Regions from separate parts of the Homo sapiens genome. Here region 1 is linked to region 2. Evidence: fine-mapped expression QTL. Tissue or cell type: nucleus accumbens. Region 2 holds a variant in brackets; the other region holds the start of a gene. All regions are shown on one strand. Distances are between the middles of the regions.

Region 1 (5,786 bases), 370 kb before region 2:
GGACTGACTGCACAGTGCAGAAGGCGGCACCCTTCCAACTCACATAAAGTTTGGGGAAACACACTCCCATGTCACTAAGTAGACTCCTATGGTCAGCACTGTGCAGAACAAACCCTTCCCTCAGGCCATACACTGACCCACACAGAACACATTTTGAGACTGTTTAAGCCCCACTTTAGCATCTTCAGATATACAGAAAAAAACAAAAAACAAAAATGGAAAAACAAAAAAGAGGGGGCAGTGTCTTTTCACAAAGCTCCTCCTGCAGTCACAAACTGCTACTGCCAATTGAAGGCTCCATCTGTCAAACGGATGGGGTGGAGTGGGGGACACCCAACCCTGAGGTCTTGTCGACACTAGAGGAAGCTGACCAGGCAGCTTTTGTGACCTGATGTGAATGGGATATGGTCAAATATCCTGCAAACGCCAGCTACAGGGAGAAGGGGGAAGGGAGAGGAGGAGGGGAAGGGGGAGGAAGAGGAAGAGAGGGAGAGGGGAAATGAGAGAGGGAAGGAGGGGGAGGGGAGACAGAGAGGCGCACATGAGCCAGGGGAAAGCAAGTCTATTCACTACACAAGCGCCTGAGACACACAATGTGCAAGAAGTGTTGCAAGAGCCGCTGGACTGTGCCTGCATGTTTGGAAATTCAGGAGAAAAGCCCTGGAGCCTGCGCATAAAACAGACAGAGAAGAAACATGAAACAGAAAGATTAGGGATAGGTAGGGTTAGAATCAATGCCTTTCCACCAAACTCTCTGCTTTTGGCTTTCTCTGTGCCTGTAAACACCATTGCAAAGTCTCCTCACAGGACAAACTGGCATCAAGATAACTCCATAATCATCAACCTCAAATGGTTTCCGAAATCCTATACTCCACATGTCAATTCCCAGTCTCACGGCTCATTATGACTGTTTCAAACCTTCTCTACTCTCCTCAGCCCTCTGAAACCTCCTACTTCATACAGGGGAATGGGAATGCAGAGACCTGGCTTCCACCTCAGTCACGCCTAAATATCCTCTCTCATCTCAGGATCTCCCTCTAAGGAGGCGCGAGGCTAAGCTGGAGATTCCGATGAATCTACCAAATTCTACGAGCAGGACTTTCCCATCCTCTTGGACCTGATCTGATAGAATGGGATCCAGCATGGTACCCTCCCCCCTACACTTCCCCCTCCCCAGGCCATTCCAGGCTCCCGGAAGACCAGTCCCGGTCCCTGCCTTGCCCCGGGCCACCTTACCCGGATCCGTGCCGGGGACAGGGATGGGAGGCTACGTGGCGCCGTCGGCATCCATCTCCAGCGGCGTCTCCCCTTCCCTGGGCTGCTCCGCGTCGCCCTCCTCTCCGCTGCGAGGGTAGGCGAGCAGACGCATGGCTGGAGCGCAGGCGGCCTCCACCTGGCGCACCTGCTCTCGGCTCAGGCGCTCGCGCCAGGCGTGCACCGCCTCCCGGGCGTCGCGCGCTGACAGGTGGAAGGGCCGGTCGGCGCCGTAGGCCGCGCCGCGAGTCATGTTGAGCGCGAAGGCATCGAGCGCTGCGAGCGCGCGTAGCCCGGAGAAGCGCAGCAGGCGGCGCAGCTGGGCGCGTGGCTGCCGCACCAGGTCCTCATAGCGCAGCCTCAGGTAGCGGCGCCGCAGCCAGGCGGGCGCGCCGCGCGCGAAAAGCAGATCGCGCAGCCAGGCTTCGCAGATCACCTCGAGCGCACCGGTCAGGAAGAAATCGGCGCGCGGCGCGGCGGGCAGCGCGCGAGACTGGCCCCCGGGGCGAGCACCCACGCCGTGCGCCAGCAGCACACGGTGGAAGCGGTCGCCCCTCTGGCGGGTGCGCAGCACCTGGATGCTCTCGCGCAGCAGTCCCTGCCTAGACTTGAGGCGCGAGTTGTGCACCGCCCTCGGGTCGCGGAAAAGCTGCACCACCTTCAGGTTGAGGCCTGGATCACGCAACAGGGGCACCAGCACGCCCAGATCGAGCAGGCGCACGTCCTTGATGACCACCACCGGGTACTTTCGGCACTCGGCCTCCAGGGCGCGTATCGCCACGGGTGGGCAGCTGCGCTCGCAGGCGGTGTCCTCGACGAGGCCCACCTCGGCCCGGGCACGGGGTGCGCCAGGACACAGTGGCGGCGAGCAGATGACCTTGTTAGTCCGCCAGCGGAAGAGGGCGGCCGTGGTAAGATTGGCCGTGTCCGGGGCGCGCGCAGCGGGGTCCCCCGGCGGCGCGTACAGCCGCAGCACGGAGAAGTCGCAGCGGAAGAGCGAACGCAGCATGTCGCGCAGCGCGCCCTGCAAGCTCTCGGCGTCGCCCGGATACAGCGCCTGCCATAGATGCCACATGGGCTCATACAAGTAGAAAACGTCCGGGTGCTGGTTAAAGAGTTCGCCCAGGAAGGACGAGCCGGTGCGCCAGGTGGCATGCACGTAGATGTGCTGCTTCTCGCGAGACACTGCCTCCCCGACAGCGCCGCTGAGGTTGCTTGGGAACCGAGGAGACTGGTTCGCGCCCCCTTCCTCGGCGGCCCGCGCCTCCGCTCCCTGCTCGCGTTCGCCGGCCGCCGCCGCCTCCAGGCTCCACACTCCCAGGCTGCGCTGCAGGCCGGGGCAGTGCTCGGCGCCCTTGTCCCCGTCGCGGCCGCCGTCCAATACGGAGGGGACGAGCAACAGCACCAGCGTGTACAGCACCAACAGCAGCGCGAACTTGCAGTACTCTCGGCGTCGCCGCCGCCGGCCCTTCATCGTTCACCGACCCTCCAGAGCGGGTCGGGCGCCAGTCTTCTCCCGTTCCTCAGAAATCCCGTGCCAGGTCCGCTCCTGTGGCCTCTCCCGGCCCCTCTGCGCCGGGAGGAGCAGAGCCGCGGGGCCGCGCATCCACAAGGGGAAACTTGGAAGGCGGTGGTGCTACTGACGGCGCCCCTGCCCTCTCGGCTTAGCAGCCGGAGAGCCGCCTATTGGCCGGCTTGGCAGCCGCCCGCCCCGCCTTTCTGCCCGCCTGGGTTCGCCCACGGCTCTGCCAGATCTGGGCGGGGCTGTAGCGGGGCTGGGACGCCGGCTTACCCAGCCAGACCCCCACCTTTCCCCAAACCCTCCGTAATGAAGTCTTCATCAATGACTTCAGGCAAAGGAGGGGCCTGTGTGTACAGAATGTACCCAGTAAAGGGCCATAGACCCCACCCGGAGAAGGTCACTGCCTCTTCTGTTTTATGTCCCCTGCCTAGCCATCGCTATCCTAGGCAGATAAACACTCGCCACTATACATCCAGCGCCCCCATCAGCCCTGGAGTGGGTGTTACTGAGTTCCGGACTGAAAGATAGAAGATTGTACGTGGCAGAGCGGTCCAGGGGGGTTGGAGATACTACTGCATCCACGCAGCACATTTCATAAAGTCTAGCCTTTGTGAAATTCTAAGTGTTGTGTTCCTTAGGGTTTCACCAGCTGATGGGCTCTGCACATTTTACCAATACTCTGGGGCCCAGTTTGGTCATTTGTAAAATGTGAATAATTCTTAGTACCCATGTACCTCCTGGGATTGCGAGATTTGGGGGTTGTTACCACAGTATAACCCAGCCTATTCTGACACCTATGAGCAAAAGACATTTACAGAATCAAAGTGGTAGAATGGTGACCTTTCTCAGGAGCTCGGTGTTTAAAAGGACCCGTAAGAAGAAATGTGTACCCAAAGATAGATGAAAAAGAGACAGGAAGTCCAACAGGCAGATGAAGACTAGAGTTACTAAAATTCAAAACAGAACCAAAAAAGATACATTTTGCTCTGTTTCATCAGGCTAATGAATAAGGAAGTGAGAGCTTCCTTTCACCAGCTTGGGGAAGGTGTTGTAAAGTTAATAAAACATAGAAAGCATATCTACTTATCTCCACCAGGGGAAGGTGTTCAAATTGGAAGAGTGAGAACATATGCAATGCTCTCCACTGGTCTTTTTCATCACGGAAGCTACTCCACCTGTGAAACCACTGACTCAAGCATTTCGTTTTCTTTCCACAATTCCCCTCTTCTTCCAGCCAGTTGTTCAAATCTTCCCTATTCTCCAACCTCCACTTTTTGACCACCACCCCCACTTTCTTCTCAATTTTTCATATTCAGCTGAAAGATGCCATACCATTATTTTAATAACACTCCCTCCAATAAGCTAAACTCACGTGCCCTCTGCCTTTTCATTACTCATCTAGCAAAATCCCCCAAACCCTGCTTTTGGCTTTCTCTGTGCCTGCAAACACCACTGCGAAACATTTCTCCACAGGTGTGAGCCAGGCACAGTGGCTCACGCCTGTAATCTCAGCACTTTGGGAGCCCACAGAACAGATCAGCATCAAGATAACCTCATAATCATCAACCTGAAATGGTTGCTGAAATCTTAGGTTCTTCATGTCACTTCCCAGTCTCCAGTTCCATTATGATGATTTCAAACCTTCTCTAGTCTCCTCAGACTTCTGATACCCCTCTTCCCCCACCCACCTCTTCTCAGCACATGACCTTACTGCCTACTTCATAAAGAAACCATGTTAGACGATCTCTCACTTTTCCACTACCAAACTCATATATGCATTGACCTCTGTACACATCTCGTTTATAGCAAGGATATGATTTTGCAATATTAATCTACAACTTTCCCTTCTGTTTTCACTTTTCCCTCCTCTCTGGCTTTTTTAAAAAGCTTTGAGACAGGGTCTGGCTCTGTCACCCAGGCTGGAGTGCGGTGGCACTATCACCACTCACTGCAGCCTCAACCTCTCAAGCCCAAGCGATCTTCCTACCTCAGCCTCCCAAGCAGCTGAGACCACAGGCATGTGGACCACACCCAGCTAATTTTGTTTGTTTGTTTGTTTTTTGTAGAGACCGGGGTCTGTATGTTGCCCAGGCTGGTCTTGAACTCGTGGGCTCAAGTGATCCTCCCACTTCGGCCTTGTGCTGGGATTACAGGCCTGAGCTACTGTGCCTGGCCTCCTCTCATCTTTTAAGCAAGTAGGTGGCTCTGTGCTGGTGTGAGGGGAGAGGTGTGGCTGGGCAGAATGCAAATAGTTGCTGGTGTTTCCCGCTTCCCCCCACCCCCCGCCCTCCGCTCCAAAAGCCTCAACTCTGATAGTGGAAAGTGTGATAGGTTTTTTAAATAACCACAAAGTATTCCCCTCCTCTGTTTTGCCTTTGGGCAATGCCTTCCCATACTGACTCTGGGATGACCATGTGGCTTGCATTGGCCTGTGGGACAGTAGCAAACATGACACAGCAAAGGTTTGAAAAATACTCCTGCTGTGGGAATTGCCCTCATCCTGCTCTTTGGAACCCTGAGATCGGCTCGTGAAGAAGCCTGGGTTAGCAACATGGCTCAGAAAATAAGCCCTCCCAGCTGAGGCCCCCCACCCCCCAGACAAACAAGCCTGCTGACCGCCAGACAGGTGAGAAAGGAGATAGATCCTCGACCAGTGCTTCTCAAACTTTAATGCTTGAAGGCTCCTGTCAAAATGCAGAAAGTGGGCCTGGCCCAGTGGCTCACACCTGTAATCCCAACGCTTTGGGAGGCCGACGCGGGTGGGTATCCTGAGCCTAGGAGTTCAAGACCAGCCTGGGCAACATGGTGAAACCCCGTCTCTACCAAAAACACAAAAAAAGTTAACCAAGCATGGTGGCGTGCACCTGTAGTCCCAACTACTTGGAAGGCTGAGGCGGGAGGATCACTTGAGCCCAGGAGGTGGAGATTGTAGTGAGCCGAGGTCATGCCACTGCACTCCAACCTGGGTGACAGAGTGAGACCTCATCTCAAAAAAAAAAAAAAAGCAGAA
Region 2 (5,786 bases):
GGAGGTTTCTTCTCTAATCCATTGTTATTTGAAACCCTAGTCAGACATTTGAGAATTTGAAAGGACCCCTAAAGGCTTTTGTCTTAAATGTCTTTTCGCTTAAAAAAGAAAAAAAGAAAAAGAATAGATTTTAGTTTTAAACAAGAGAACACTGATCCATTTATGCCATTGTTTAAAATATTTTCTGTCATGTTAGTTGATGCCCTGAATCACTTTTAAAACTTCCCTTATTAAGTCATAGTTTATCCAGAAAAAATATAGTAAATCCTGAAGTGTCTGAAGTTTCCTTATATTTCCCAATGATGGATTTGAATAGGCTTTTAGCATGGTACAATTATTACTGGCTTCAGCGCAACTATATCACTAGGTAGCAAGTCTTGTGGCTGCAAGTGTCTTTGTTCTAAGGAATTGTACAATGAAAATATGATCTAATAAGGTAGTTATTCATTTACCACTTCCTGCTCATCAGCCCCAGCTTAGTGCTCAAGGCCCGCATGTTTCTAATTTCAATTTCAACTGCTGCAGAAGAGGCTTACTATAAAAAGAATTTAGAGTTAGCCAGGACTATTCTGGTGCCACAGACAAATTCTCACAATGCCACAAATAATGTAGCAATAAAGCAGGGACTATAATATGCTGCTATAGTTTAGTAGGTTGAATGGAGGTGAGGAAGTGGTGACAAGTGACTAAGGTGAGAGAAAGTTAAAGAGTGGTTGAGGTTGCAGAACTCTCCTTTAGTAGAAGACTGGCTTGATTTGATTCAATCTTCTGTTTCCTCCTTATGGACTTTCCTATTTGCCCCTCATTCCCTTGATCCTTCTTGTCCCTCCCATCTCCTTACCTTGAGTTGGTCATTTTCAGTTCTAGGGGCTCTCAAGCACTGCCATGGGGGACTGCATTGGTTGGTTCATCTTTCTACCCAGGCATACATTCATTCATTCACTAAACGCATACCAAGCGCCTCTTCTGTTTGTGGCTCTGTGCAAGGCACTAGGGATCCACCCTGAGTAGGACAGTTTCTGCCTTATGGAGAGACTAGAAGTAGGACCCCACAATTCGGATGAAGTAAATGGCTTCCAACCTTCAAAGAACTGCTTGCTGTAGTTTGGTTTGATGCATACTGGGTTTGGTTTGATTGCTAAAGGTGTGCAGATATATCTGTTATTCCTTCTTAAACTTATATCCTCAAAGGAGAGTGACAGCTTTCAGAGCAGAGACCTTTAGTGTCTCCATCTAGGACATTCATAAAAAGTAAGTCTGTGAGCCAAGAATAAATCTGAATTTTTTATTGAGGACTTGAGATCAGAACAGATCAAATGTTAGACTAACATCAGAACTAAAGATGACTGTCACAGTGTGAGGCCACCAGGGATGAGACTCTGAGATGGAGATCAGCATATAGGGTGTTTATTAGGAAGTGCTCTTGGAGCCAATACCTGTAGAAAGAAGGGGATGGAAACATGACTGGTTAGAGGGAGAGGTTAAACTGCTGGTCCCAATGAAGGCCTTGGCTGATCTTCTGGGAAGCTCTGGTATTAGGATGGCTCTTTAGAGCCGTCCCAAATTGAGGCAAGGGAGCTAGGCCTTTATACCAGCTGCATTGTTTAGACATTGGATGTGTGTTGCCCCTGTTGGACCTTGGGTATTTTTTTAGCCAAGGCAAGCCCTGAAAGTGGCTGAGAGCAGAGAGTGATCAACGGGCAGTACTAGCAGCTGGGAGAATAAGTTCTTCATTTCTGAAGGAGGATCTGGGCAGCACATTACAGGGTTCATTCACCACAACCACACCCAATCAGTGCTAGAGGACACTATGACAATTTACCTAGATCCAACAAAGCCAAGGGGTTCAGGCTACCTAGGAAGGACGTATCATTCCCCACTAGCCATTTGGAATGGTACAGTTAAAATATCTAACAAGTAAATTTCAGTCAATTGAGTAAATTTTTCTATACTTGTTTTTTTGTTCACTACACAGCTGATATAAAAGGAATGAAGTCCTTCCCCACTATCTAAATATGATACCACATTAGTAAGAGATTTCAATGTTTCTTCTTTTATAGGACTTCACAATGGAGATTCTTTGAGAAGAGATTTTTGATGGTATTTAAAAGGATGACTACAAGGAATGACAATGGTGTTTTTACACATATCTAGGGTGCCATATATTCTAGTTTGCCTGGGAAATACCTGATTTATGCCTTTGTTCCAGCATAATTATTATTAGCACACTTTTCACACTCAAAAGTACCCCTTTTGGGGGTGATAGATTATATGGTGACCTTACGAATCCCAGATAGAATTTCAATGTCCAAATGAGTGTTATGTTTCAGAATAGTCACATTGAAAGACCAAATAAACACTAATTCTGAAGATGCTTTCATTGACCCAAATATGTTTAAAACTATGCTGTTGGAAACAGTGGTGGGGTTACTATATGAAATAGTCATAAGAGTCATCCACTTCCTTTCAATCCCATCTCATTCTTCATTTTCCTCTCATCCTCTCACACCATTTTCTAAAAACCATTTTAAGAAGAAGCAATCCTGTTCCCCACACCAGAGTCATTCACCATGTCCATTGGACTTGGGTTTGATTAACTTTGTTTCCTAAATCAAAACTTTCCAAGGATGAGAATATGAGAATTTTCTACCACTGACTTTGCCTAAAATTGTGAACCACAGAAACATTCTCTCTCTCCCTCCTATATGTAATATCAAATAACATAACAACATAACATAATCAGAGCTGCTGGGATTGAAGGGGTTAATAAACAACACCCTTCTTACCCATGCCTAAGCTCTGTACCAATGAATATAGACAGAAGAGTAGGCTGAGGAAGATTCAAATGTTAGCTGTACTGACATTGGAACACATGGCATAAATGTGTAACAACAATGAATTTTCCAATAATGATAACTGTACCCACATTTTCTTCTTGTATGCCAT[TG/G]GATGAACTGGCAAGCCCATGGTCAACCGGTAGTGTGGCCAGCTCTCTACTGGAAGAGGTCAGTTGTCCTACTCCTATTTTTGTCAAACCACCTCCATGTTACCAACTTCTGCTTTGGTGGAGATGTCCTTTGACCACTGATAGGCAGGACAGATTTTGCCAATAGAAGGTTCCAAAATGGTTGAGAATGATAAATCAATTAGATTTACTTTAAGGTTGTTTCATGGCTGAAAATCCACCTTCTGTTTTACTTCGTCTCGCAAATTAGGTCCAACCACATTGTCCTACTCAGCCTAGTAGAATGTCTTCAGTGAGGTTAAATGATATCATAAAAATATTCCACCGAAATATATAGGGACAGCCCATATTCAAATATACATTTCCTCCTACTATTAATTACCCAGGGAGAATTAATGTGTCCAACTTTTAAAGAATCTAAAAATTAAAACTTCACATTAAAATCCAGAGATTATGGGTTTCGGTCCATTTCTTATTCTGCTCATTGTCAGCTAGAAAGGTTCTCAGTGTCTGGGCAGAGTTATCAATACCTCCAGCAACATGGCCCAAAATGCCTTTTGTAAGAATAGGTGTCATCTTCTTGGGTCCTAGAAGTTATATTAGCCATTCTTCTGTCTCTCTTTTAAAGACTTCAGATTGTCAATAGGAAATACAAATTATCACAACACTGGCTAAAATTAATTACTTCCAGCAATTTATAGCACTAGAGCAGTTTTCTCAAACCAAATGAAATCTCAGAACCTATCTAATCCTGGGTTACTACTGCCAAAGACATAATGGAGACTCAGTGGTATCTGAAGGAAAAATGAGGCAAAAACATTCTTCTGGGTTTCAGCTTCTCCAAAACACTAGACTAACTATAGGAGTTGTCTAGTGCCTGTGACCTGTGAAACTAAACTCTGGGGAAATCCCCTACCAAGAGGTGAATGTTGACACTGGGTATTTGCCATAACTTTCTTGGGAAATTCCTTGGTCATACTCTGAAATTGTCATTCTGGACATTGATGCCTTCTTGCAAAGTCTAAGTGTTTGTAATGATGCCAGTCACAGACTCCAGATATTATTTGAATTGCTCTTTTCTCCCCTAAACAATACACTTGGAATCTCTTAATTTCTATTTCCCCATGGCCCTGTGTGTCTAGGACTCTGTGCTGTATATAGATGGTATCTCTCTGCTGACAAGTCTCCTACTCTCTCTTATGAGAAGGCATTTTCAATTATGTGTCACACTGGCTGTGGTCATACGTCTTGCTGTGGAATTGCAGAGGCTTAAGAAGGCTACCTCTGAAGGAAGATGTCCCTTTCATTTTCATGTTTGTTGCAACTGGAGAGTTGCTCTCAACAGCTTATGAGCTGAATCTGTGGTTGCTACTTCTGGAACTTTTGCCCTTGTAGACCTCATGAAGATCAGGACCTTCTCAAGACCCAAGGCATGTGGATCTTGGAAATCTAGACCCATGGTCTGAACTTTGTGATGACGCGATTCAGAACCAAAAAGAGGCTACAGGGTTGGAATGACACCTGAGCCTGTGGCCTGTCCAGAGTTCCTCCTCACCCCTTGTTTGGAAACTCAAATTATTTTTTTCTATTTTCTTACTTAACAATCAACACAGAAGATTTCTGTGACCAAATGTGGGGAGAAGGGGGTTCTCCTTACCACCAGGTAAGCAATCAATTCGGCAGTGCACACCAGCTGGATGTCCTCCAATTCAAATTCAACACTATCTACCTGGAGATAGTGTCAGATCCCACAGATTGAGGGGTCAGTCCCCAAAACTGCCCCTCCCTCCTTCAGACAGCAGTACTAAGTCCAGGCCTCCAAAACTTGACAGACTGGCTTTAAGTTGGGGTTTCCACAACGCCCTCTTTGGGTTTGATTAATTTGCTAGAGTGGTTCACAAAACTCAGGGAAACACTTATGTTTACCAGTGTATTATAGAGGTTTTGCAAAGGATACAGATGAAGAGATGCATAGGGCTGGGTATGAGAGAAGCGTTGCAGAGCTCCCATGCCCTTCCTGGATGTCCCATCCTCTGGGAATCTCCATGTGTTCAGCTATCTGGAGGCTCTCTGGACCCTGTCCTCTAAGGTTTTTATGGAGGATTTATTACATAAGCATGATTGATGAAACAATTAGCTATTGGCGATCAACTTGACCTTCATCCTCCTCCCCGCTCCCCAGAGACTGGGGGCAGAGCTGAAAATCCCAACCCTCTAATCCTGCCTTGGTCTTTCCAGTGACCAGCCCCACCCTGAAGCTATCATTCAACATTAGCATATAAAAAGACAGCACCTTGGAGATTCCAGGAAATGGGGGTGGGGGTGGGGACAAGGACCAAATATATATTTCACAATGTCACAGCCCTGAATCCCTAGAACGGATTTTGGGCAGCTTACCCAGCACCAGATCAGGTGAAGGACCATCCCATCTTCAGAACTTCCTGCGGGATTGGCTGAGGCTTCTGTTGGGAATGAATCACAGCTCCACTTTTCTCCTCCCAATTCTGCATCCTTTCTTTCTTTCCTCTCCTATAGGAGTTGATTCCAAGAGCACTCCCTCCCAAAAGTCCTGCATGCTGATCTTCATCTCAGAGCCTGCTTCCCAGGGAGCAAAGCTAGAGCAACCCTGTGAAGGCTCACATCGTTGTTCCCACTGCCTGAGAGCCCCCACGAACACCTTTGCCTCATCTCCCAATACTGCTGATTGTCTCAACTTCCCCTCAGGCCAAGGGCCAGGCTTTGGGCACAGCTTCAACCATGATGATCATGCCAGGGGCTACAGCTGCTCCAGTGCTCAGCTGTGACCTGGCTGGACAAACAG

Evidence for each region. PIP is the estimated chance that this variant, and not a neighbour inherited with it, causes the effect.
Region 1: CHST7 starts here. The variant in region 2 is fine-mapped to the expression of CHST7 in nucleus accumbens (GTEx, PIP above 0.99).

Annotation. Positions count from the first base shown.
Region 1 is chrX:46,570,874-46,576,659 of GRCh38, reverse strand. It overlaps CHST7 (carbohydrate sulfotransferase 7), which reads right to left and starts at 2,895. Exons shown (of 2, transcript NM_019886.4): 1 at 1,237-2,895. The coding sequence starts at 2,728. The coding sequence ends at 1,268. RefSeq lists silencers at 1,648-1,707, 1,828-1,877.
Region 2 is chrX:46,203,326-46,209,111 of GRCh38, reverse strand. No RefSeq gene overlaps it. Among named protein-coding and RNA genes, the nearest start is that of LINC01186, 120 kb to the left of the region's middle. The variant TG/G (reference allele first, on the strand shown) is at 2,947.